6 separate regions of the Homo sapiens genome follow, and regions 2, 3, 4, 5 and 6 are each reported to be linked to region 1. Evidence: microRNA targets listed by miRTarBase, many of them from high-throughput screens and not tested one by one. Region 1 holds a microRNA gene; each other region holds the end of a gene's coding sequence.

Evidence for each region. The annotated mature microRNA hsa-miR-1229-3p reads CUCUCACCACUGCCCUCCCACAG and lies in region 1 at 2,217-2,239, opposite strand. An mRNA with a match to its seed (bases 2 to 7 or 8) in the 3' UTR can be bound and repressed. Matches are read on the target gene's strand: a 7mer-m8 pairs with bases 2 to 8, a 7mer-A1 pairs with bases 2 to 7 and ends in A, and an 8mer does both.
Region 2: the mRNA of CTNND1 is a reported target of hsa-miR-1229-3p. The part of its 3' UTR that is shown has no 7-base or 8-base seed match.
Region 3: the mRNA of ADPRS is a reported target of hsa-miR-1229-3p. The part of its 3' UTR that is shown has no 7-base or 8-base seed match.
Region 4: miRTarBase lists PPL as a target of hsa-miR-1229-3p. The part of its 3' UTR that is shown has no 7-base or 8-base seed match.
Region 5: miRTarBase lists WDR3 as a target of hsa-miR-1229-3p. The part of its 3' UTR that is shown has no 7-base or 8-base seed match.
Region 6: the mRNA of ACOT7 is a reported target of hsa-miR-1229-3p. The part of its 3' UTR that is shown has no 7-base or 8-base seed match.

The regions. Positions count from the first base shown.
Region 1 is chr5:179,796,062-179,800,145 of GRCh38, forward strand. It overlaps MIR1229 (microRNA 1229), which reads right to left and starts at 2,285; the gene lies at 2,217-2,285. It overlaps LTC4S (leukotriene C4 synthase), which reads left to right. Exons shown (of 5, transcript NM_145867.2): 5 at 192-586. The coding sequence ends at 333. It overlaps MGAT4B (alpha-1,3-mannosyl-glycoprotein 4-beta-N-acetylglucosaminyltransferase B), which reads right to left. Exons shown (of 15, transcript NM_014275.5): 8 at 3,893-4,007; 9 at 3,445-3,575; 10 at 3,142-3,249; 11 at 2,867-3,060; 12 at 2,452-2,530; 13 at 2,286-2,373; 14 at 2,104-2,216; 15 at 1,549-2,007. The coding sequence ends at 1,984. RefSeq lists silencers at 1-239, 280-329, 350-509, 354-565.
Region 2 is chr11:57,815,921-57,820,004 of GRCh38, reverse strand. CTNND1 (catenin delta 1) reads right to left here. Exons shown (of 21, transcript NM_001085458.2): 20 at 4,004-4,084; 21 at 465-3,708. The coding sequence ends at 3,697. It overlaps TMX2-CTNND1 (TMX2-CTNND1 readthrough (NMD candidate)), which reads right to left. Exons shown (of 21, transcript NR_037646.1): 21 at 825-3,708. Among named protein-coding and RNA genes, the nearest start is that of CTNND1, 56 kb to the right of the region's middle.
Region 3 is chr1:36,092,857-36,096,940 of GRCh38, reverse strand. It overlaps ADPRS (ADP-ribosylserine hydrolase), which reads right to left. Exons shown (of 6, transcript NM_017825.3): 6 at 3,009-3,844. The coding sequence ends at 3,555. COL8A2 (collagen type VIII alpha 2 chain) reads left to right here. Exons shown (of 4, transcript NM_005202.4): 4 at 1-1,702. Among named protein-coding and RNA genes, the nearest start is that of ADPRS, 6.0 kb to the right of the region's middle.
Region 4 is chr16:4,879,786-4,883,869 of GRCh38, forward strand. PPL (periplakin) reads right to left here. Exons shown (of 22, transcript NM_002705.5): 22 at 2,722-4,084. The coding sequence ends at 3,599. It overlaps UBN1 (ubinuclein 1), which reads left to right. Exons shown (of 18, transcript NM_001079514.3): 18 at 298-2,616. The coding sequence ends at 347. Among named protein-coding and RNA genes, the nearest start is that of UBN1, 34 kb to the left of the region's middle.
Region 5 is chr1:117,958,754-117,962,837 of GRCh38, forward strand. It overlaps WDR3 (WD repeat domain 3), which reads left to right. Exons shown (of 27, transcript NM_006784.3): 26 at 157-250; 27 at 539-4,084. The coding sequence ends at 694. The region is part of intron 48 of SPAG17 (sperm associated antigen 17); the gene reads right to left. Among named protein-coding and RNA genes, the nearest start is that of WDR3, 31 kb to the left of the region's middle.
Region 6 is chr1:6,260,834-6,264,917 of GRCh38, reverse strand. It overlaps ACOT7 (acyl-CoA thioesterase 7), which reads left to right. Exons shown (of 9, transcript NM_007274.4): 9 at 223-646. The coding sequence ends at 321. It overlaps GPR153 (G protein-coupled receptor 153), which reads left to right and starts at 3,820. Exons shown (of 6, transcript NM_207370.4): 1 at 3,820-4,084. RefSeq lists silencers at 3,581-3,900, 4,081-4,084.

The DNA.
Region 1 (4,084 bases):
ATCGCGGGCGGGCGGGGCTCCTGGGGAGCGGGACCGAAGCTGGGGGCGGGCGACGGGCCGGAGCCCAGCGCCTTTGGGGATTCGGTGGGCGAGCCCTGGCGGCGGCCAGAGGAAGTCCCCGTGGGGCCAGGGTTGCGGCGGGGAAGAAGCGGGCCTCCTCGCGCCACCTCCCCGCTGACCGCCGCCCGCAGGCTGGCACCGCTGTACGCGAGCGCGCGCGCCCTCTGGCTGCTGGTGGCGCTGGCTGCGCTCGGCCTGCTCGCCCACTTCCTCCCGGCCGCGCTGCGCGCCGCGCTCCTCGGACGGCTCCGGACGCTGCTGCCGTGGGCCTGAGACCAAGGCCCCCGGGCCGACGGAGCCGGGAAAGAAGAGCCGGAGCCTCCAGCTGCCCCGGGGAGGGGCGCTCGCTTCCGCATCCTAGTCTCTATCATTAAAGTTCTAGTGACCGAGACCCGGGCTGCGTTCTCTGGGTCCGCGGGGGTGGCGCACCGCGGGCTACGGAGCCTGGAGGGGCCCAGCCCGAGTCCGGGCAGCCCGGGGCGGGCTTCCTAGTGGCGGCGTGAGAGTGGCTGCGAAGGAACGAGCCCTCCCCCTGGGGCGGGACTGGATCCGGTCTTCACCTCCTACCCCACTCCCTACTCAGCCTCGGGGTCACAAGGCCGCCCAGTCCTGCCGGGGTTCACCCTCCTAGCGCTCAGCGGTCTCCTCACCGGTCCCCCTCCTCAGGGGCCTTCCCTCGACTCTCAGCCGCCGCAGTCCCTCGTCCCCTGGCCTTCACAGCTGACACTAGATAGAGCCTGTGGCTCTCTCCCCAGGTGAGGGCAGGGGTTTTTCTTTTGGTCAGCACTGGATCCCCCTCGTTAACTGTAGGTGTTCAGGGCAGCCCTCCGAGGTCCGCAGAGCTGCGGGCACCATGGGAACGAAGTGAGTCAGTGACAGGCGGTCTCAAGGAAATGTCCAGAAGCCTTGGGGATCCAGGGGAGGCCCACAGAAACAAAGAAGTGACTTTTAGCCAAGTATGCAGGAGAAACGGAGAAAGGAGAGCTTTCCAAGGAGGGGCAACAGTGTGTGCAAAGGCCCTGAGGTGAGCGGGAGACCCTAATGTGCCAGAGGAGTGTCGGGGACCCAGGATGAGGACCAAGCTGAGACACACGGAGGGGAACAAGGAGGCTGGGAAATGCCTTCAGCTTGAGGAGCTAAGGGAAGGCCTCATCGCAGGCCTTGGACATGGGGGAGACATTCGGGGGACCTGCTATAGGCATTGTGGTCCCAGATTCTGAGCTGGTTTCACCAGTGACAGACTTTGCGGCCTGATCCTAGGAAGGGGGGTACGCTGGCGCCGAGGTGGCACTGCAGCTGCACAGCCAGGGGCTGGACCCCGCGCCTGCAGGCCAGGCTGGCTCCTTGACTTAGCAGGGAAAGGTCGCTGCTGATGCTGGCTGGGGAGGCCCAGTGCCAGGCTTAGTTGGCATGTTGGGGCACAGACCAAATGAAGCCAACCGCAGGGGCAGAGGGAGATGCCCAGGGCGCTCACATTTGAGGCACACACTTCATTAACCCTTTATTACAAGTCACGCTCTTATAGAAGTATATGTGGACTTACGTGAAAAAATCAAATGTATCCAAGAATAAAAAACACAGCACATAAAGTAGTATATGCATTCCAGTGTTCGCGCCAGAGACGGCGGGCGCCCAAGTAAAAGCTCTTCTAAAACGGCCTGACTGGGGCAGGCCGGGTGCGAACGGTTCCGGGCCTCAGGCACAGTGTGGGGGCCGCCTGCCTCCTCCGCGGCCCGGCGGGCGGGGGCAGCACCAGCTCCTAGGGCCTCCGGGCCAGCGGCGGACCCCAGGCCGGCCCAAGCCCGACGCCAGGCAGAACCCTTTGGGCGGGGCCGTATCTGGCCCTCCGGGGACGGCAGTGACGACACCCCCAGAAATGTGGGCTTCAGGGCTGGCCACAGGGTACCCTCAGAAGCCCGCAGCTTAGTCGGCCTTTTTCAGGAAGATCTGGAAGAGCCGGACCCAGGGTCAGCAGGGCCTCTGAGCTCCGCCAGGGTCTCCCTGGCTGCTCCCCGTGCCTGGCCTGGCCCTGCCCAGCCTCACCTCGCTCAGAATCACCCACACAGGGGAGTCCGTCTGGATCGAGAGGCGCAGTGCTTCCAGAGGGCCGAAGGCTGGGTCCACCTCTCCCTCTGCCACTCCCTTGTAGAAGGAGCCTGTGGGAGGGCAGTGGTGAGAGGGTGTCCCTGAACCCCAGCCCACGCTCTCCCCCAAACCCTACCCACCGATCTGGAGGTAGCCGTCGGGGCTCCGAGGGTACCGGAGGGTGGCGGTGCGGCCCTCCTGCAGGGCCTCCTTGTCTGACTGAGGGTTCTGGGGGCAGAATCAAGGGCTGAGGCAGGTGGTCACAGGAGGCCCGGCTTCAGTGCACACCACACCCACCGAACTTACGTCGAAGGGCAGCACCTCCACAGACGTGTTGAAGAGCTTGTCCTCCGGGTGCTCGATGTTCCCACTGCGGAAGAAGAACCTGCAGCCAGGCAGGCCTGTGAGCTGCTGCAGGGGCAGCGTTCCAGCACAGCACCCAGGGCCCAGCAGAGAAAGGCCAGGCCTGCGCCAGGAGGGCCCCCCAGGCAGCTGTCAGGCTGTGCAAAGAGACCAGGGCCTTCCTCTGGGAGGATGGTGACAGGAAACATCCCTGAGCTCCTAGGGGCTGCCTGACTTAGTCCTCACAAGGTAGCTACCATTACGAGGCCCACTTCAGATGCGGAAACTGAAGAACGTGAGGATAACTTGCCGGTGAAGCCTACACCCTGGGGGCCACCCAGCCCCGCCCCCATCGCAGACCCATGGTGCTGGCACTGACCGCTCCAGTCTTAGAGGTTGGAAGAAGCGGAAGCGGATGAAGTCCCCCGCGGCAGGGGTGAAGGCCCAGAAGAAGTCCTCGCGCAGGTAGGCTTTCTCCAGGGTGAAGTGCTGGTATGTCTTCAGGCTCGTGCTCACCTCTGCTGGCGGGTTCACATGCTCCTTCCGCAGCGCCTGCTTTCCAAAGTCTTTGTCCTGCAGCGGAGGAGGGACAGCAGTGATGGCGTGGGCCCCGACCTTGATCCCGGCCTAGGGAGAGCGTGCAGTGCAGCCCACCTTCAGTTTCTGGATCTTGCCAGCCAGCGAGGAGTGAGTGCCCACGTGCTGGAAGAGGGACGGTTTGAAGCGGATCCGCAGGTTGGCTTTCTGCCGGTCACAGTGCTTCTGTGGAGGGTGGGCAACACCCCAGGGCTCGGCTTAGCCCTCCTTCCTCAACACGGCCTCTCCTGGGGACTACCAGGGCCCTCCCACAGCTGACAGTGCTCTATGTGAGCAGATGCAAGGACAGGGACACAGTTTGGGGTGGAGGCTGCCTGCCCCTTGGCCCTGCCCCTGCCAGTCCCGCCAGCTCTTGCTCACCGCATCCTTCTCGGGGTTGCAGACTTTCACCCACAGAATATGGTCCAGGAGCCAGTCGATGGGCTTGTCCCGGTAGAACATGAGAATGAACTCTACAATCAGGCTCAGGTCCAGCGACTTGAACATCTTACCTGGTGGGGAGGGGCCTGAGTGGGCAGTGCTGCTCTGCCTACTTCCTTTCTCCCTGCAGCGGCCCCCGAGTCCCACAGCAAACCCAGGGGCAGGCTTCAGGCAGGTGTGGGCATAACGGGGCAGGGAGGCAGACAGGTGATGAGGGCAGACATGTCTGATGCACAGGCAATGAGAACAGGCCAGGTGGGGCTGTAGCACGCACACCAGGCAGGGCCCACCTGGGCAAAGGCTCACAGTGGACACAGTGGGACTGGGAGAGAGGATGGCAGAGGCAGGTGGGACTGAAAGGCACCGTCAGGTAAGGGGAGGGGCACACCAATGAAGCCCAGCTGGGAGAACTCCAGGATCATCCAGTCCTCTGAAGGCTGCTGCAGTGCAAAGTTCTTCATGGTGCTCAGGTAGTTGGGCTTGGCCACGATGTCATCCTCCAGCTGCGAGGTGAGCAGAGAGGGGCTGGGGCTGAGGAAGGGCACCCAGATGGACCAGACCCATCGCAGGGCAGGGCGGC
Region 2 (4,084 bases), not on the chromosome of region 1:
ATACAAAATTAGCCAGGCGTGGTGGTACACACCTGTAATCCCAGCTACTCGGGAGGCTGAGGCAGAAGAATCGCTTGAACCCAGGAGGCTGAGGTTGCAGTGAGCCGAGATTGTGCCCCTGAGTGACAGAGCAAGACTCTGTCTAAAAAAAAAAAAGTGGCCAAGTGAGGTCCCAGCTTTGACCTCTGTCACAAAGTACATCAGTGTCAAGAAACTTGTGAGATAGGGCCTTTACACATCATTCTGTGTAACATCTCATTGTATTTAGATATGGCACAGAGAGAAGTGTTTTTAAGATCATAGATCTTGTCTATGGCCATATCACCCTGAACGCACACGATCTCGTCTGATCATAGATCTTAGCTATAGAGGATTCTCATGGATTGCAATCTATGAGAAAAGATCCATCTGTTTCACTCTCTAATCTAAACCTAACCTTGACACAACGCTTAGCATATAGGAGGTGCTTGGCAAATATTTATTGAATGAGATAAACAAATGGACCAATCCAGAAGGAAGAGAGAAGAGTAGGGTTTGTATCTAGCTCAATGCCAAAGGATAAGAACATAACAGGGAAATAAAGTGTTGCTGACAAGCAGCCAGGCTTTTCTATTTAGATAAAAATCATCTCAAGCAGGGCTATCAAAACTCTTTGGAAAGTAAACTCTTAATAGCTTTTTGGCTTTGTACTTCAACCTCTAATCTAACACTACAATTGTTAGACACAAATCAAGCTTTAAAAGCTAGTTGATTTCCTGGTCTCACTAGCCCATGAAAGTTTTCATACCCAAGTCCTAGTTCAATAAAACAAGACAGGACCATCATCAGGAGCAGCTATATAATTTTAATCTAAAGATTTGGGCATACAGAAAGCATTTCACATAAATTCTCTTGAGTCTTTAATTATATGACAGGACATAAGGACCTCAGAAAAATAAGTATCTTCCCATAGATCTTAACCCTTGATCTCTGCAGCAAAGATAGTCCCTGGTAATCCAGGTAATATGGTCTGTAAAATATTAATAAATAGGCCTATTGACTTCTGACTAAAGGACTGCATATAGCCTGAGAAGCAACATTATGGCCCAGTGGTCAGTACTTATATACATGGGCCTTTTGATCCTACATTTTCCTATTACGTAGTTGGGATTGGTAGTTTCTAATCTTCTAGTCCTAAGTGTTATATTTAAGAGAGCTACGTATTACAGTGGGCCTTATTCAAGGTTAGTTTTGTCAAATGTTGCAGAAGAATTCCAGTAATTAAAGTAAGTCATTAATTCTTTATGCTTCAGTTTCCTATCTCTAAATTAGCAATAAGCTCCCATGTTCAACTTCAGCCACATTCAATTTTTAAGAATCTTCAGAAGAAAAAATGTTTCACATATAGTTAACAAGAATGTTGCTTGATAAAGAGTTGGGGCTGAGCTCAAAATAAATCCTGGTATAACCTCCTTCTGGTTGCTCTGGAAAGGACACTGATACATAAGGAAGTAACAAAGATGCAAAGCAGGGAAGAAATAACAGCTTGAAGTGAAGAAATGACACAGACCCCCCACATACACACTTTAAAAACTTTATTTATATAAAAAACTCATTTGTTTTTAAAAGCATTAACAAGACAGAAAGAAAAGAGAAAAGGTATGGAGCAGAACACAAGCCCCTTAGTAGTGTTCGGTGGGAAGGTGGGATTTTTGGTTCTCTGGAATTGAATGTTTAGTGTTTTTTATAAACAAAAGAGAGAAAAAAAAGTTAAAGGTCCCCAAAAGCCCACGGCTGTTCTATTACCCACACCCCACCGAGAAAAAAGAGCACCAGGAAAAGAGCAGAAGAGGACAAGAGAGATCAAGAGTGGAGCCAGGTCTGGATGGGGCAATTTTCCCTGTGCAGTGTGCTCTTAGGGTCACAGAGAGCAAAAGGCTCCTTTTTGCCAGAAAAGGTAGATGAAAGTGGGAAGAAATGGGAAGGGGGAAAAGGGTAAATAAGAAATTTTAATGCACGAGTAAAGGGGGTGGTGGGTTGTGCACTTTTCTCCTACCCCATAGCCTCAATATATAAGGGAAGGGGAAGAGAGGGATAAGGAACTCCAGTTGCATGGAACAGAGCTTTTAGATTAGATTAAGGGGAGTAGAAGGCAAATAAGGAAAAGGATTAGAAATAATAATAATAATCAACCCGCATAGCAGCTGATTTCTCTAGCCCAACCTGCTAATTAATATATGCTAAAGTGAGAGGGGGCAATACTGGAGGGAGGGGAGAATTGGGGAGACCACTTCCCTGTAACTCCTTCAGAGATGATGGTAAATTCTGGGCACCTAAGGAGTAAGAGTCACACCACTCACTTCTCTTACCAGCCTTACTTTGAGATTCATCAGAATAGGATTTTTGCAAAATCCCACCCATATGCTGTTGAGCAAAAGCTTGCTATGACTGAAATCATGGCTATACCAATCCTCAATGAAGAATCTGAGGTTCTCTCGGTCACTTCTCTTCTTTCTGCTATTTAGGGCCAATAGTAGGTAAGAAAGCAACAAAATATAATTTGCAAAATTATGAGAAATGAGACTGCAGAGGCAAAGAAAGGCACATGGAAGGGCGGGAGGAGATGCACCCCAGGCCAAAGGCACAAAGAAGAGGCAAAGCCAGGGGCAATCCCCACCTTGTAAGGGAAAAGGGACAGGAGTTATGTACATCAAGTCCTTTAGTTTGCCAACCAATCCAGGGCAGAGGCAAGGGACAGGCCTATAAGGATAGGAAAAGGAGAAACGGGGGAGTGGGGAAGCCAGTTTCAGACTAATTGCTTCATGTACATTCCTACTAGCTCCTCCTAGAGGTCTTCTTCTTCCCAAAAACACATCTTTCTGCTCCTTCTCTACCAAAAGTCTTCCTTGACATTCTCCCCTTTCTACAGCCTCTTGGAAATGGCCAGGCCAACTCAGCAGACATATCACAGGGCAGGAGAGGTGGGTTAAGGACAGCCTGTGTTTAAGGGGCAGCAGCAATAGCCCAGGGTTGGCATGAGGCTTGCAGAAGAGATGGAGTCTGTAGGTTCTTGATGGTCCCTGCCTTGGAGATGAGGAGAGCAAGGTTTCTTAATCCCAGTTTTAGGAGACCTTCACTTACTCAAGGGTCCTTTGCCAGGTGGCATGTGCCAATGTTGCTGGCCTTCTTTGCTTCAAAAATAGCCATTAGGAATAAGGGAAGAGCTCACACTTTCCCCTCTCTAAAAGAAAATAAAAGTCCCTTCCCCATCAGGAAAAAAATCTTGATTAAGAATCGTCAGTTTATCAGACTGCTGGACATTGCATATACAGCATGTAACTTCCAATTCTTCCCACGGCTTCTAGTGAAGATTCCTATTCTCTCCATCCCTCCCCTCCACAAAAGGCCAGGAGTTCCAGGGAAAACTGGCAAAAAGAACTAATCTGCAGCAGTTTCTCAAAATATGCAAATAATTGAGTCAGGTTTCTTGGGAGAAAAATGGAGGGAATGGGGGAGGGGGAGGCGTTGAGACAATTAAACTTCACAGGAAGAAGTTGGGAGTTGATGGAAAGAAGGCAGCCACTTAGGGCTGTAAGGGCAGGAGGCAGCCTGGCAGTTGGCACAATAGTCCAGCGAAGAAAAAGGAAAATCATCAGTCAATTTCACCACCAAAAAATAAAAGTACATATAAGCCCAGATGGAACGGAGATAGTGGTGCTAAATCTTCTGCTGTGGAGAAAAAAGAGAAAGAGAGAATGTTAATGGGGTTGGGATTAAGGAGACCCCCCCCAAAAAAGTTGAGCAAATCTGGAGAAAGGAAAGCAGCACATAACGGAGAATCAGATCACCAGCTGCATGTCCCAGACTCGTAAGAGGTAATAATCACAAAAGCAGAACCCCTCGAGCCCCATGTGGCTGAGACTACTTAGTCTCTGGCCTGATCAGATTAGCGTGATTGACAAGTTGCTGGCACTCAGGAGCCTCCTTCCTCAAGAACAATCTTGGGGGTGACTGAAGGACATACCATGGAGGGGTAAGACACTTGGCCCCCCTCATCATCCAAAACCAACACATCCAACTCTTCCTCCAGAGATTCCTGCCCCTC
Region 3 (4,084 bases), not on the chromosome of region 1:
TGCTCCAGTGGCAGCCATGGGGAAGGCAGTTTGTGAGGGCTTGGGGCACAGACCTGGGGCAGGAGGCAGCTCTTCACGTTCATCCCTGTCTCTCCCGGGCTGCCCCCGCCAGCTCTGGCTGTTTAGCTTGAGGGCAGCACAGAGGCCCCTGGGACACCTACAGGCCAGAAAGATCAACCTCTGTGAAGTGTCTAGAAGTATCTAGTGCAGATGGTGGCGGAGGCAGAATCGACCATCAGCAAACATGAGCACTCTTCCCTTTCTCCCCTTCCACCTGCTGCGGGCTGGGCTGGTTTTCTCAATACAAAATTGTAAGAGGATCCTTGTCACCCCAGCCAGGTATCCCCAAGGCAGAGCACCTCTCGTTTGGCCCTCTGAACAAGGTGCACGCGAGCTGGGGGATGAAGACGGCTCCCACTTCCTTTTCCTTAATAAGAACCATATGGTGGGTGTATGTGTGTACAAGAGGGGTTCATCTGTGGGGGCTTCCTCTCCTTCCACCCTCTGGTTCCAATTTCCTGTTCTAAGCAGGACTAGGGCCCAGGAGGCTAAGGCTGGGAGAGAAAGGGTGCCAACAGGTCCCTTGGGAATGAGTTGGCTCTGGACGTTTCTGCCCTGTTCCCCGATCAGAGCTCCTCTGCAGGAAACAGGCAGGATGCCCCTCCCAACCCCTCAGTCCCTACGTCAAGCGGAGTGGATAAGGCTGAGATGAGTGCTGGGAGTGGTGGACATTCCTGCTCGTGCAAAGATGGCCACTTTCCCCGCAGCTGCAGGGCCTCGCGCTCGGCCCTCGCCAGGCCAGCCCCACTCCTTGTACCAAGTGTGAACTGGGGTCATTCGGTCTGTGATCTCGTTGCACTGCTCCAAGTCTGGCTGTGTCCAGGCGGTCCATGTTGAAAATGGAGGATGGCTGCTGACTTCTGACTGGCTGAGCAGTGGGTTCCTTCAGGTTCCTTGCCAACCCTCCTCCCCTGCCCACAACTTCTCCAAACAAAGCAGGCTGTTTGCTCACTTCTTCAAAAGGAGGAATGATAACCCAAATCTGCCCAAGTGACACTTGAGAAGGTTTTGGCTGGGGTTCCTGGTGGATTTCTTACTACCTAACGCCCAAGAAAACCAACTAAGGACTCTCAAACCATACCTGGTGGGGGTTCTTCGCTCAACCTCTTCTTCCCTAGGTCAAAGCCACTATCATCTGATGTGTTAGGGATGGGTTCTGATTGGCAGAAATTAATCAGCTCCCAATGGGAGCCCACGGAACTAAGTAGGGTCCCAAGAAAAAAAACGGGAGCTATTTCACAGAGCTGAGCTTCTGCCAAATTTCATTCCTCAAACCTTTCAGGAGGGGTGGTTGGCGTTTCTAAAATGTTTATGGGATTTGAGTTGCAGGTGTCCACTTAACTGACTAGCTTTGATAAACAATGTCAGATTTTAACTATGAAAACGACATTACCTTGTGCATTTTTATATTGATTCCTATTTTTTTTTTAAGATTAAAGTTTAAATGTTTTCCACTAGTCATTTCACTTCTAACTTGGTATAGGAAGCTTAGCTCTCTACATACCTATCATGTGCCCTGTATCACAGAAGATTCAGGAAAAATGCACTTGGGAATCAAAGAAAATGGAACTTCTTTTTGAAAAGACAAGCAACCATGTTAACTGTATTGACACATCCTCAATAAAACCTGTTGTATAAAACAGCACTGTGCTGAAACTGATACTGACACAGAGGTATCTCAAGCCTCTGGGTTCTGTAAGGTGTCCAGGAAGCTCTCTGGGGCTTGTGTGCCTGCTCTTAAGGATCATGCACTCCTCACCAGCTCCCTAACCTGGATTTCTGTCACCACCACATCACAAATGCCTGATGCTCGTAAGCTGCTGAGGCCATGCGCCAGGCAAATGCCAGGAGGCATTTTAAGAAACCAAAGGCAGGTAGTGGCTGGAGCTGGGGGCGATGGCTCAATCTTTACTGGAATATTCCTGCAAGCTCTCAGGGCTAGTGGAGCATGACAGCTGGCTCAGTAGTCCGAGGGCCAAGTTTCAACATCTGATACAAATTATGAATGAAATCATGAATCTTTGCTCCTAAGGGCTGGGCTAGTGTCAGGCCCAGTGCTGAAGACAGGCTGGGGGAGCTGTCCTGGGCGGAAAGCACCTGCTCACAGCCTGCCATGCTCAGCCACGAAAGATCTGTCCCTGGCGCTGGGGGTCTGGGTGGCAGACCTGAAGCAATCTGTGTTTTGAAGAGTCCTCAGCCTAGCCAGAACCCTATCTTCACTAAAACAGATCTGCCCGAGAGTGCTGAAACCGCAGGGCAGCTGCAGACTGCACATGCTCGGCTAGCCACTGAGGCTGGATGCTCAGAGAATGTCCCTGGAGTTTGAGGGGAGGCATCTTCCCCCTTTCAATTTTCCCTTCTTCAGAATGGATGCTAGTCTCAGATACTTGGGAACCCATGTGGGAGGATCGCCTGTGCAATAGAGTGAGACCCCATCTCTAAAAACATGCTGTGTAAAACTTCCTTGCAGGGAAAGGCTTTTGATTGGTCCCAAGATACAGGAGGAGGCACACGGCACTCAGTCCACCCGGGGCCCCGTGATGGTGCCCTCCCCACCCAAAGGTTGGTAGTCTGATGATAGCAGGGCCCTCTGGATCCTTCTACAGGGTTCCTGTTCCTGGCCCAGCTGGGCCTAGCTCCTGTTTGGGGAAGTCAGGCTCTGAGAACAGAAAAATCTGGCTTGTTCCTACCCGCTGCCTCTGGCAAAGCACTCGGCCCAGCAGCCTGGGCCACTTTGAGTGATCTCTAACAGGAAAAGCCACCAGACCATGCCTGCTGTGCCCTTCCTGGCTGAACACGCAGCCAGCTGGAGTGCCTGGCAACACAGCAGCTCATGGCCTTGGGGCCCCAGCTTCTATGACAGTGCAGCACAGACAAAGGCACTAGTCTTCAGAGATCAGGCTGGCAGGGGAGAATCCATTCAGGGCAGGAGAAACAAGAAACAGTGGTGAGATTTACCAAAAACTGTTTATTGCGACTTCCACTGGAAGCTGTTAATAAGCCACATGGCAGCCAAGAGCCAGGTGTGACCTAGATCAGCTGGATGCAAGTGCCTGTCCCTTCATCCACACAACCTGCTGCTCGGGGACCCTGCTAGGATGCGCTTGCTGGCAAACTGGCTAAAACCCAACAGGGAGAAATGATGCTACTGCTCATCATTTCCACCTCCCCACATCCCATGTCCAAGACAATACAGGAAAATGCCACAAGTACCCCTCCAAAATAAACCCGCCTGCGTCTGTCTGTCCTACTGAGGAGCCAGGAGTGTCCTACGGCTCTGCAGCAAACCAGAGACCCAGCACCAGCGAGGCACCAGTCCCTTGCTCGCTGTTCCAGTGACCTCCCCTGCAGAGACCCCAGCCTCACCGGTGTACTCAGTCAGCTCCACAATGCAGGAAAAGTGGGAAGCCACACTCAAGGAAGCGCAGGGTTTCTGATTGGAGCTGTAGTTGGTCCCAGGGGACCTGGCAGAGCCCCAACAGCTGTAGCCCTCATCAACTCTTCTGGAAGACACGGTGCAGGCTTTGGGCCAGGATGTCTGTCTCCTCGTAGCCTTCACAGCTTTGCTGCCAGCTCTCTGGCACCTGATCCATCCCATAGTAGGCACCAGCAATGGCCCCAGCCATGGTGGCAATGGTGTCTGTGTCCCCACCAAGTGAGATGGAATAAATGAGAGTCCTTTGGAGGCTATTGAAGGCAGAAGGGATCTCAGGGTCTGGCTCCATGCAGCGTAGGAAGCAGTAGATGGCGGTGGGTACCGACTCAAAGGCAGCAATGCCATTCCCTGTGGGGAAGCCAGGTTAGAGGGGCTGCATGCTTCCCCAGGCCTCCTACCATTTGACACAAGTCAGCACTCTCGGCTTCAAGCAGGCTGTGACTAAGATCTCAGGCTCTACAGTTAGACCACCTGGGCTCAAATCCTGGCTCCACCACACACTGGCTGCGTGACTGGGAGAGTTACCTAGGGGACCGCTAAGCTTCCTGCTCCCAGATTCAACTCCTTAAGCAGACAGGGAGTAACGTT
Region 4 (4,084 bases), not on the chromosome of region 1:
GGCAATTGTAGCCTGAGATGACGTAGCCCAAGTTGCACAGCAGAGTTGCTGTTCTGGAAACACTGTGCTGAGTGACCACCGACCTTCACAGTGCTAGTGTGCTTGCAGGCTGTGGCCAGGAGTAGTGTACACGAATAACTGCTGGCTGGTGTCTCATGGCTTGTTTGAGCTCTAGAACACTCAGCATTTGGGGACTTTTGCTATTTAGGTGTCTCCCTTGAAGTTTGGTTACTACTGCCTTAAGGAAATCAGAGAGCATGAAAAACTTGCGTTCTAATTTTTCTTACTCTTTTCCAGGTGCTTCTCAGCTTCACGGGAAAGGGCCTGCTGTACCACGGAAATTGTGACCGCTTCAGAGGCAAGGCTTGCCACTTGGGTCTGGGTGGAATCAGAACGTGCAGGTCTCCCAGGATGTACACTCACTGCGCCCTTTCTGCTGCTTGGTGTTCTTCTGGAGGAGCGTGAGTTCTCAGCGGAGCGCTTCTCGGCACTTCTGATGTGCCTCCCATGGAGGGAGCCGGGCCCTTGCTGCTCAGGAGGTGCAGACTGCCCCGTGCTCTGGGCCTTGCAGCTCTGTCGCTAGACGGTTGTTAGAGGGGCAGCTCTAGGCTGGGGCTTGCGCTGGGCCGTGGTGGGAGGCACAGTGTTTACAGGCTCTGGTGGCAGAGCAGTTGGCACACCTGTGGGTGAATCTGCCTGATCCCCTGGCATTTGGTCAGAGTACCTCAGAGCACCCCACTGCTCAGGGGCTCCTTCTGGCTGCAGTAAGCTCCCTGGATGGTCACAGTGCCGCCCCATCCCCAGGCTGTGTGCTCAAAGCGGACAAAACTCAGGCCAGAGCCACAGCTGGGAGACCTGCACTGTCCCTGCGAAATACTAAGAACACCTAGGGTGTGCTCACTGTGGGGGCCAGTTTCTCCTCGGAACATGACAATGAAGCTCTTTTAGAGAAAAGACCTTTGTAGATTCAACAATTATGATAGGATTTTTACAGACACCTATTTTGGGCTCAGTTTTCATCATTACCATTAAATGCATTGGATAGAAGGGGACTGTTCTTCACACATCATATTATAGGAAGACATAATTCCAGTGCCTTTATGGTGGAGCAGAATTCGACAACACATGTCCATTCAGCCCTCTGAATGGATCTGAGACGAAGACCTTTTTAAAGATATGTCTGTATTGAAGAGAAAGCCAGTTTTGAGTTTTTTACACTTGCACATCATTATCTGTGCCGTCCTGACTAGAAGGTTGTCTGGGCCCCCAAATTCCAAGTCCCAGTATAGCCAGGGCTCCCATTTTGTTTTTCCAGAGTTCGTGGAGGTGGACTGCAGAGCCCAGAGCCCTTCATCTCTCTGAGGGTCAAGGATACCAGGGGTCCCAAGTCACAGATAGACATTCCAGTTTGTATTCTTAGGAATCATTCTTAGGCAGTGCGGCAGAAGCAGGCCTCTGTGAAGTGTCTGCCGGGTAGAAATAGGCCTTGAAGTCCTGGGGCTCTCCAGGCAGTGGGGTTATGTGTCGACTGAAGGGTGATGTGCAGAAGAGCTTGGAGAGTGGATCAGAGAGACTAGGACAGTTACTGCAGAGCTCCTAAGTCACCACTCAACCAGTGGCTGTTTCACAAGGATTTGAGGGCACTTGCCTGTCTTGTGAGGTCTGTGCCACAAGGTGAGTCTGAACTGACTGCTCCAGCTAAGTGATCAGGCACGTTGAGAGTATACGGTGTCCTCAGCACATACACCTGTGGGAAAACGGACCGCTCTTGGCTCCTGACTCCCAGGGTACAGCGCCCAGTAACTCATCCTTCATTCAGAGGTTTGCTGGCCTTCCCGGTTTCCCAAGGAGCAAGACCTCTGTCCGCCCTTTGGCCCGGCCTCTGCTCTGTCTCCTTTTTTTACATAAGAACCAATCCGTGTTTCACATTGGGCTAAGTGGATTCCTTATCCCTTTGTTATATATATTTTTTGCAACTTGGATTTCCAGTTTGTTTACAGAGTAGTCTTAGGTAGTAGCAAAAGAGCCAAAGAAGAGATTTGTATTGCTGAGCTCAAAGCCAAGCAGAGGCCGGCAGTGGAGGCTGAGCAGGGACTCTCCAGGCTTCTCTGCCCATAAACACCCGGGTCCCAGGCCCTCCTTCCTTTCCCTTTGGTGCTCCCTCCTCCCCACGTACCATTGCGCGTGCAGCTGGAGCAGAATACCCTCATTTTTAGGAATCTAGTGATGCCTCTTGCCTCAGGGAAACGTTTCTTTGATGGGGAGTTTGAGATTTCTTTTCCTTGTTTATGCTTTATTTGTGGTAATGAAAGAGCGAATGACTGAACAGCCATGGCAAGGCAGACCTACAGGCGAGGCCGCAGCAGAGGGTGGGGCAGAGCAGCCTCGGGGTCTGGGGGCTGCAGGGGTTTCCCTGGCGCAGCGAAAGTCTCTGAGCACTTACCGGGCGTGACCGTTTCTTAGGTGTGAGAGGGGCTGTGGCTTTTGTGCAGCGACTATGTTGGTGTTAGGGGTGGTGTGGAGATTGTTAATCTTGTATAAAGCAATTCAATAAATTGTTTCAAGGTTTCCAAAACATTTTTTCTCACTCTTTTCTTTCTACCATGTGGAAGTAAGTAGTTCTTCCTGTAGGAGCTGTTACAGATGGAATATCCATTTTGGCTGAAAGCCAAGGGGGGGGGGCGGGGGAGTAAGCCTTGCATGCAAAAGAAGAAACATGTGGACCGTACAAGCAGACTCCAGCCACCAGGTTTATTTTCATGCTATAAATAAATTTCCCTATTAGTTCCCATTTTCTTATGTTCTACATGAGATACAGAGACCCAGATATTGGCGTGGTGAATAATCAACTGTTTTGTATACCTAAATACCAGTGAGATAATAAGCGAGACTTGTAAAGCACTGAAACTAAGGCTAACAGCAGCACAATCCACTATCAAAGGATTTAAATGCCAGAACTGTGAAACATTCTCTGTAGGTGCCGGGACAGTCTGGTGGCTGACAATTAACGTCCACTCCAGCACCGAGGGCTGGACACTTGTGGTTTCTGTTCACCTTTCCTGGCTTGGAGCCCAGATCTGTCTCATGAGCAGAGTAACTACTGAGGAGGCTTCTCGGATGGAAAGTTGGTTTTAAGCCAGAAATCTGGAGAGATGTCATGCCAGGCAGCAGCCCCCACGGGCCCAGGCCTTTGTGGGGCAGTGTCACTGTCTGGTGTGCCACCAGTACCCATGCTGCAAGGAGTGGGCTTGGCTGCTGTGGTTGGCTTGTCCTTCAGTGGTTTTCAGATTGTGTGCAGTTATCATGAGGAGTTTGTTGCTGGGAGTGTACAGGAAAAGGGAGGAAAAGGCATCGCAGTTGTCCAGTCATTGGAGGATGAAGTACGTCACTCAGGGTGAATGATGGTTGGGACGAGAGTTGCCTGTCTTCAGCCAGTGCCTGTCTCATATGTGGGCGGGACTCTGAGCAGCCTGGCAGCGAGGGTATGTATAAAATGCTTGGCCTGCACCAGGGCAAGGGAGAGGACGACACCAAGGAGGTCACTGCGTCGTAGGAGAGGGCCAGCGTCTGCCGTTACGAAGAGTTGCAAGAGCTGTGCCTACTTCTGCCCAGATACCAAGACCGCCAGCTCCTGGATGGACATATCCTTGTTGACATAGCGGTCATACTGAGCAGGGGTCAGCCTGCCACTCTGCAGGGCCTCTTCGATGGAGAACTTCTTGCCAGACTTCCTGTCGTGTATCACTGAGGACTCCCCATTGGGACCCTTCACTGAGATCTCCTCCCAGTCGCACTCCTGGCTTCTGAGTTTCACGAACATGTTCCAGTCAATGAGCCCGGCACGGTGGGCTTCCTCCGGGGACAGCTCGCGGCCTGTGTCAGGGTGGATGACTACGATGGAGCGCCGCAGGTGGTTCTCCCGCTGCTCCCGCTTGACGGCCACGGAGCCCAGGCGCTTCTGCAGCTCGTCGATCTCGAGGTCTTTGTCCTTGGAGAGCCTCTTGAGGTCATCCAGTTCCCTCTCCAGGGACCACAGTCTGGAGTCATGGTTGGTCCCAGAGTCCGCCACGGTCATGTTCCGCAG
Region 5 (4,084 bases), not on the chromosome of region 1:
GAAACTTCTTTGGCTTTTTTTTTTTTTTTTGCTCGAAACATTTCTATAATGTATATTTTGTTGTTGCTTTGATATTGTGTCTGTTTACTGTTTCTAGAAGGGTTAAGTAGGGCTAGAACCTCTCTGCAACATGGCTGTGTTTTGTTTTTCTATCAGGATTCACTTTGGACAGATCACTAGCAATCAAATGCTTGTGCCAGTGATAGAAAAATTAAGGGAAACAACTATTTCAAAAGTCAGCCAAGTCCGGGTAAGTGTCTTTGTATAGAGATAAAATAATGAGGCAAATTCCTAGTGTGATTTAGAAATAGTATAGTATGCTGTGCTTTGTCTTTAGCAATACCCACCACCGATAAATCCATATTTGAGATAGTTTTTGTTAGAATTAGTAGGAATAGAAAAAACAAACAAGAAAAGTTCTTAATGAGGGAAAGATAAGTAACAACACCTGAAGCTTTGGTTACCCTAACTCTCATACGCTGCTATAATGAATTGAAGTGGGAGAAAATTTTTTAATATTTCTTGTATTGCACTCCAGGATGTTATCGGCTTCAATATGGCTGGTCTTGATTATCTCAAGAGGGAATGCGAGGCAAAAAGTGAAGTTATGTTTTTTGCTGATGCTACTAGCCACTTGGAAGAGAAGAAGAGGAAGAGGAAAAAGAGGGAGAAGTTGATTCTAACGTTGACTTAGAACTGAAATGTGGTATCTTTTTTTTTTTCAACTTTTTCCTTTAAAGGACTCCTAAACTAAGCACAGAAGAGTTGGCGTCATCTTAAAAATACCAAATAACAGAAGATCGCATTGCAGATGATATCAGGATGTGGTTTCCAGCTTTGCCTGAGGGAATTCCAACATGAGATTATGGGCTGGCTCCATTTCTTGGACTTAAAATGCATTATTAGTTTAAAAATCTTTCTGTGCTCTCAAAGCTTGAGCCTTGCAGCTCAAGCTTGTTGTTCCCTTTATATTCTAGCAGGGAATAAATAATTGTTTTAATTAGGTATTTGTTTCATTGGAGTTGAAATTAACATTTCAAAAGTTTTTCGTATTTTTTTATGGCAGATGATTTGTCATTTATTTATATTAGGTTTTACTGCCTATTGAGACAACCAGGTGCATAATTGATTGCCCTTTGGCCATAAAAATGCAGTGTCATGGATCTTAGAGCTAAAAAGGACTGTAAAAATTACCCAGAACAGCGTCCTCAGACTTAACCTTCTGCAAGTTATGTCTGTATATAAGAAGATTCTAATTGCTAACTGTTTATACTTTTCTGAATAAAATAGTTGTTTCTAATTAAAAAGTAGCCAAGCTAAGATGCCTGGCTGGGCTTCTGAGGAATTAATACACTCGTGTGTGTGTGTGTGTGTGTGTGTGTGTGTGTGTGTGTATGTGTATGTGTATGTACACATACATATATATAGTTGACACTTGAAAAATGCAGGTGGTAGGGGCACTGACCCACCCCTACGCCCCGCACAGTCAAAAATCTGCATATAACTTTTGATTCCCCAAAGTCTTAAGTACTAGTAGCCTGTTATTGACTGGGAGCCTGACTGATGTATTATATATATTGTATACTGTATTCTTAAAGTAAGCTAGAGAAAAGAAAATGTTACTTAGAAAATCATAAGGAAGAGAAAATATATTTACTGTGTTTATCAATACTATAAGTGTATGTCATCTGTTTATAAAATGAATTGTCTGTCTGGATTGGCAGGCAACCACAGCCGCAGACCTCAATCTGTGGTACTTATCAAGCATCAGCTTTTTCTTGTAATGTCATGACTTTTCTCTGCTTTTTGGGAGCACTGTGATATGCAGTTTACTGGGGCGATGAGTTGTTCATGCACAGGTGATTAGTGTCACAGCATTTTAAGTGCATACGCACAACACTTGAGCTCACTGCATAGCAACAGGAGGTGGCTGTGAAATTATTTCAGTAACATACTGTGTATTACAGTTCATTTTATGCAGCTATGATTTAATACTGCATCTTTACATTATTTTACATTTCTCCCAAAACTGTGAATTGCACCATGTATGATCTGTATTTGTGTGTGTTAATGTTGATAATAGATTTGCGTGTATTTTATGGCAGTAAATGATAAAATAGTCTAGTATCTACATATATTTTGTGCATTCATGATATAACTACTTTTTTCCTAATTTTTTTCATCTGAAACTTTTCTCATTGTTTCAGATCTCCAAAAATTTTTCCAATATATTTATTGAAAATATCTGGGCTGCGTGCAGTGGCTCACGCCTGTAATCCCACCACTGTGGGAGGCCGAGGCAGGCGGATCACAAGGTCAGGAGTTCCAGACCAGCCTGGCCAACATGGTGAAACCTCATCTCTACTAAAAATACAAAAAACTAGCTGGGCGTGGTGGCAGGCGCTTGTAATCCCAGCTACTCAGGAGGCTGAGACAGGAGAATCACTTGAACCCGGCAGGCGGAGATTGCAGTTAGCCAAGACAGTGCCACCAGCATTCCAGCCTGGGCAACACAGTGAGACTCCATCTCCAAAATAATAATAGTAAAAAAAAATCTGTATAACAGTGGAGCCAAGTGGTTAAAACCCATGTTCAACGGATTGTCTACTGTATATCTTCATGGTAAGGATTTGGGGAATGTTCTAGGAAAAGATATTGACAGATACCTCTGGGTCTGGGCTTTTCTTTTGGGGAAGTTTATAAATGACTAAATCATACTTCTTGTTACAGGCCTGTTTAGATGTTCTGTATCTTCTTGAGACAGTTTTGCTTTTTATCTTTTTTGTTGTTGTTAATCCCAAAGATTTAAAACTATGGTTTCTGTCTGAATTTGGTCATTGCAACCAAGTTACTGTGTTGTGGGGCCACCATTTTCTTCTAGGCTCAGATATGCAGTCCTTGTGGCTTGCCGATTTGTGTCCCAAACCACAAGTCTTAATGTTCTTGAGCATAACACAATCACTGAAGTGAGTAAGGGATGCAGTGGTGTTATTTGTTGGGCAGAATAAATAAGTGAATTTTGGCATAGAGTTTCTGAAGGCATAACTATGAAGGCAAGAGAATAGGCAGGCAGGATAATGCATTCTAGGTGCTTTCCAAGGAGTCAGTGTTGTTTAGGCAGCTATTCCTGCCACCAGGGAGAGGAGTTAATTCTTGAAAAAAAATTTAATTTTTTATGAGAACAGAAGTTGATTCAATATCCTTCTTAGAGTTGCTCATCAGAACATAAATGTCACTTTCTAGTAACATTTTTGATGGTTTCCAAACCAAAACAAGTTCCAGGAGGGCATTCGAGATGTATACATCATCAATAATTACTCTTATGTTAAAAGTTGCTGTTTTCCCGTAGCTTTGCCACCATTTATAACTCAAAAGCCTGATAGTGCTAGGGAATGTAAAGATGTTTCTGTCTGCTAAGTGTTATACTAATCGAAGAGAAGGAGAACTTTTATGATAAAGTGACATGTACAGAACCTAGCCAAGTTACAATTTTTGGTCAAAATACTTGAAACTCTTTAACTCTAAAAGTTTAAGGTCAATAGGTGCATTATAAAGTAAATTTTAAGCCAGGCAAATTTCTAGTCATTAAGTCAGTATTCATTGCCTTAGTCAGCCATTGGCTGTATATAATCCTTAATATAAAAACCATCTAATGACTAATATCTCTTGCATATTGTGAAGTAAGTTACCTATAGAAATTCTGTAGTACCATAAAGAAAAGCCTTTTGAGATTGCAGTGAGCTGAGATTGTGCCACTGCACTCCAGTCTGGGCAACAGAGCCAGACTCCATTGAAAAAAAAAAAAAAGGCTCTTGAATGATGTATTGGGAGTAAAACATTTAGGCTTATTTTTAAAAATGTATATATCCATCCACTTAGAGAAAATATGCTTAAAAATTTTGAAATTCACTGGCTGGAAGCTAGGTGCTTTGTATATTTGGTATTAAATTGTTTCTCAATGGCAAATGTCATAAATTATATCTCATTCTAAAGATATCTAGCAAATCTCCAGCAGAGATCTAGGACAGTGCCCAGGAAAGCAATGGTATCTGTTGGTAGGTACAGGACTGTATATAGGACTCTA
Region 6 (4,084 bases), not on the chromosome of region 1:
CCAGCCCAGTCAATAGGCCCATCAGCGAGGTGGGACATGAGCCCCATGCCTGGGCTACCCGGCAGTCCCAGGAGGCCAGCGGGGCCGAGGCGTGGTACTCAGCATGCACCAGGGGTGGGGCAGATCCCACGGGTGGGGGGCAGGGCCCCAGGCCAGGTCACAAGGCCACGGCACTGGTTCTGCAGTGACCCTAACCTGCCTGTCTCTGTGTGTGGTCCACAGCCCGAGACCGAGGACGAGAAGAAGCGCTTTGAGGAAGGCAAAGGGCGGTACCTGCAGATGAAGGCGAAGCGACAGGGCCACGCGGAGCCTCAGCCCTAGACTCCCTCCTCCTGCCACTGGTGCCTCGAGTAGCCATGGCAACGGGCCCAGTGTCCAGTCACTTAGAAGTTCCCCCCTTGGCCAAAAACCCAATTCACATTGAGAGCTGGTGTTGTCTGAAGTTTTCGTATCACAGTGTTAACCTGTACTCTCTCCTGCAAACCTACACACCAAAGCTTTATTTATATCATTCCAGTATCAATGCTACACAGTGTTGTCCCGAGCGCCGGGAGGCGTTGGGCAGAAACCCTCGGGAATGCTTCCGAGCACGCTGTAGGGTATGGGAAGAACCCAGCACCACTAATAAAGCTGCTGCTTGGCTGGACCCACGTGTCCTGGGTGGTCATTTGTCTTGGGGGGGCTGCTTTCCCAGGGGGTGTGGGACATTGGGGCTCCCGTGGACAGTCTCAGCCCTCCCAGCACCAGCACCTGCATGTACCCTAGAACCTCAGGCACAGCCACACCGATTGGTGTCCGGCTGGTGACTTGCTGGCTATGAATGCCCATTTCCCGTGGGTCCCTGGTTTGGTGTCCTGGCCCCAGACACCCTGGCTCCCTGGACCTCATAGGCAGCCCAGATGCTGGGAGGATGTGGGCTCAGGGCCACGCTGCCTGGTGGGAGTGCCAGCACCCCACAACCCCCCTGTCTGGCTTGCAGAGGATGCCGGCTCTGAGCCTGTGTGGCTTTCCTATGAACAGGGTGGGGCTGCTGGGAAAGACTCAGCGAGGTGATGGTGTGGGAAGAGCCAAATGTGGCCTGGCTCAGCGTGTGGGAGCCCCACCCTGACCCAGCCTCTTGCTAGAAACTGCCTAGACACCCCAAAATCCTGTCTGAAGGAGCCCCCCAGCTGGCGCCAGGACTCTGTGCCTGACGTGGAAACTCCCCCAGCCACTCAGGCAGGAGTCTGCTGGGATGGCTTATAGGGCAGGGGTCTGAGGGACAGCACGAATGTGTGTCAGTGCCGTTGGTGTGAAGCTGTGGGCATACGTGTCACTGACATATCTGTGCATGTGCGTGTGCATCTGTCTGCATATCTGTGAGCACGTGTGTGGTGAGGGTATCGGTGTAGCAGGGTTGATCTGTGCATCTGGCCCAGCCAAGGCCACTACAGGGACCAGGACCCCACCTGCATCCATGGCTGAAAAGGAGGCCCTCCAATCAAGCACACCCAGAAGTGGCATCTGGGAGAATGTTCCCAATTCAGTCTGTCCCTGAAGCCCCAACATCTGTCCTGCCGCCTGGAGAAGACTGGCCCGTCAACAGCTGCGGCCTCGCACAAGGCTCCCTCTGGCCCCTGGAGAGCGAGGACTCGGCTCCAGATGTGCAGAAACACCAGCCAAGAGCTTGGGAATCTGTCCCGGGCCCCAGTCACGGCTGACGGGGTTATTTCCTGTCTGGGAGGGGGTTGGAGGTGGGAGGGACAAGCTCAGCCACATGAAGCTTCTGCCACGCCACCATGCCCCTTGGCCCCCCGGGGCTGGCCTCAGCCAGCCTCGGCCCCCAGCTCCACCCATGACCCATGCCAGAATGGTGCCCTGGGTTCAGAGCAATGAGGAGGCCACCCTTCCCAGCTAGCAGAAGGCCCAGGGCTGGCCACAGCAGTGCCTGAGCCCAGGGGCTCACTGAGGGGACCAGTTCCCCAAAGCACCCACACCCTTCACTTGAAGTTGGGCCCCGCATCAGACTCCCTAGTTCAGTCCTGGCTCAGCCACTCATCCGTGTGGCTTTGGGCAAACCAGGCACCTGAAAACCGCCTCCCAGGGGCACCGGGCACTTTGCAGCAGAACCCAGCACAGCACGAAATAAGCCAGGGCCCCGGGGCGGCCATCAGAGGCCATCTCCCACCTGCCCTAGAGCCAGCTGAGGCCGGGCAGAGGCACTGGTCCAGGCAGTGGGTCAGCTGGGCTGGCAGAGGGGAGCCAGGCCCAGACAGAGGCATGGCTCTCCATGGCTGTGTGTGCAATCTTAACCGTGGTGTTTCTAAGCGGCATGGCTCTCGGTGGCCATGTAATTAAGTGTGGCGTTTCTACCGTTTCACCCCGAGTCACAGGCGAGACACTTAGAAACACCACCCTTGATTACAGCTGCCCTGTGCCAGCCTCCCACTGCTGGTGGCCTATTTATAACCAGGACCACCTGGAGGGGGAGCCAACCTGTCCACAGAGGGCTCACTGGGGACACTGAGGGCCCTGGCTGCCCGAGAAACCACAGGGAGTATAGGTGTGCATGGCCCCAGATTCCCCCTTGCTCAGCCCCACACGTTATTGCGGGGCCTTTCTCTACAGACACTCCTCTTTTTGTCTCATGGGACGGACCCTAAGACCCATCCTGGGCCCCCTAAAAGCTGCTCAGGGACCTGGGGTGTGGGGACGGTTTAGGCAGGTGCAGGCTGTGGAGCAGCCCTGCCCGGACTGGGCAAGCTCCAAGCATCCGTTTTGGCTGCAATTGGTTTGGGTCTCCTCCTGGTCGGGTGCCTAGTTTCCTCCAGACACAGGGGTGCCTAGTCATGGATGTGTCCCAGAGGCACGGAAGGACACTATGCCAGGCAGCCCCAGAGGCCTTGTGCCCATTGTGTGTGTGGTCAGGTGCTTTCTAGAAAAGACAGGCACGATCCTCAGGAGGCGTCCTCTCCAGGGCCCCCATCAAGAAGCAGGAGGCTTTCCGCCTGCATGGGGCCAGCTGAGGCTGTCAGTCTGTGGGTGACAGCCTGTGCTCTATGAGGAGTGGTGATAGCATGAGGGCTTGGGAGGGAGGGGCGGAGGGGCGGGAAGAATGGGAGGAGGGGAGGAGGGGAGTAGGAGAAGGCTTCAGGCGCTGGGCTGCAGACCCTGGCCTCTCCCGGCTGGGCGGTGGTGCTCAGAGTTTCAGAGAGAACAATTTCTGAGCCTGTGGGGGTGGCGGGGACCACTCGGCAGCCCGGTGGCCCGTGCACTTTATTCCCTCAGTGGACCCCCCAGGCCCGGGGAGCAGCGTGAATCCGTAACTGGCCCAACCTTGCCCCTCGCTGCCCCTGCTTCAGACTGGATTCCCGGTTCCTAGAAGCCGCTGGCCATGCGTCCCTTGTCCTCTCCACGCCCCGCCCCGATTGTTCATCTTAGATGCGGCTTCCTCCAGGAAGGTCTCCCTGAGCCCCAGCCCTGGCCCCAGGTTCTCAGTGTCCATTCCTGCCCCAGCTCCCTCTGGCCCCCGGGCCCCCAGAGCTCCGGGCCTGGGTCTTGCCCCGGCGTCCGAAGGCGGCGTCCGGAGTGTGCACCGAGCCGAGCTGGGAGCCAGGGGCGCGGCGCTGTCAGGAGGCGCCACCAGCCCAGGGAGGCTCGGGCCGGCCGCGGGCGGACGCGGGGACACGGGTGGGCTGCGTACGGACGGACTGACGGAAGGACGGACGGGCTGACAGACCGACAGACGGCCGCGCCTCTGAGCGGGCGGGGGCGGGGCGGGCCGAGGGGCGGTGCGGAGGCCCCGGCGGAGACATGCGCCCTGCTCCGCCCCCCGCCCCCGGCCGCCCGGCGCAGCAGCGGAGCGGCGGGAGCTGAGCGAAGCGCGGCGGCGGCGGCGGCGCCTAGGGGAGGGAGGGGCGGCGGGGCCGAGCCCACCTAGCGGAGCGCGCCGGCCGCCGGTGGCCGCCGCCAGCATGCCCCGGCCCGCGGGCCGCTCCGCCGCCAGCCACCCCCGCGGCCCTCGGCGGCCTGCGCTCGGCCCGGGGGCGCGGGAACCGCAGCCGGAGCCGGAGGCGGGAGCAGCGAGCCGGAGCCCCGGGCGCTC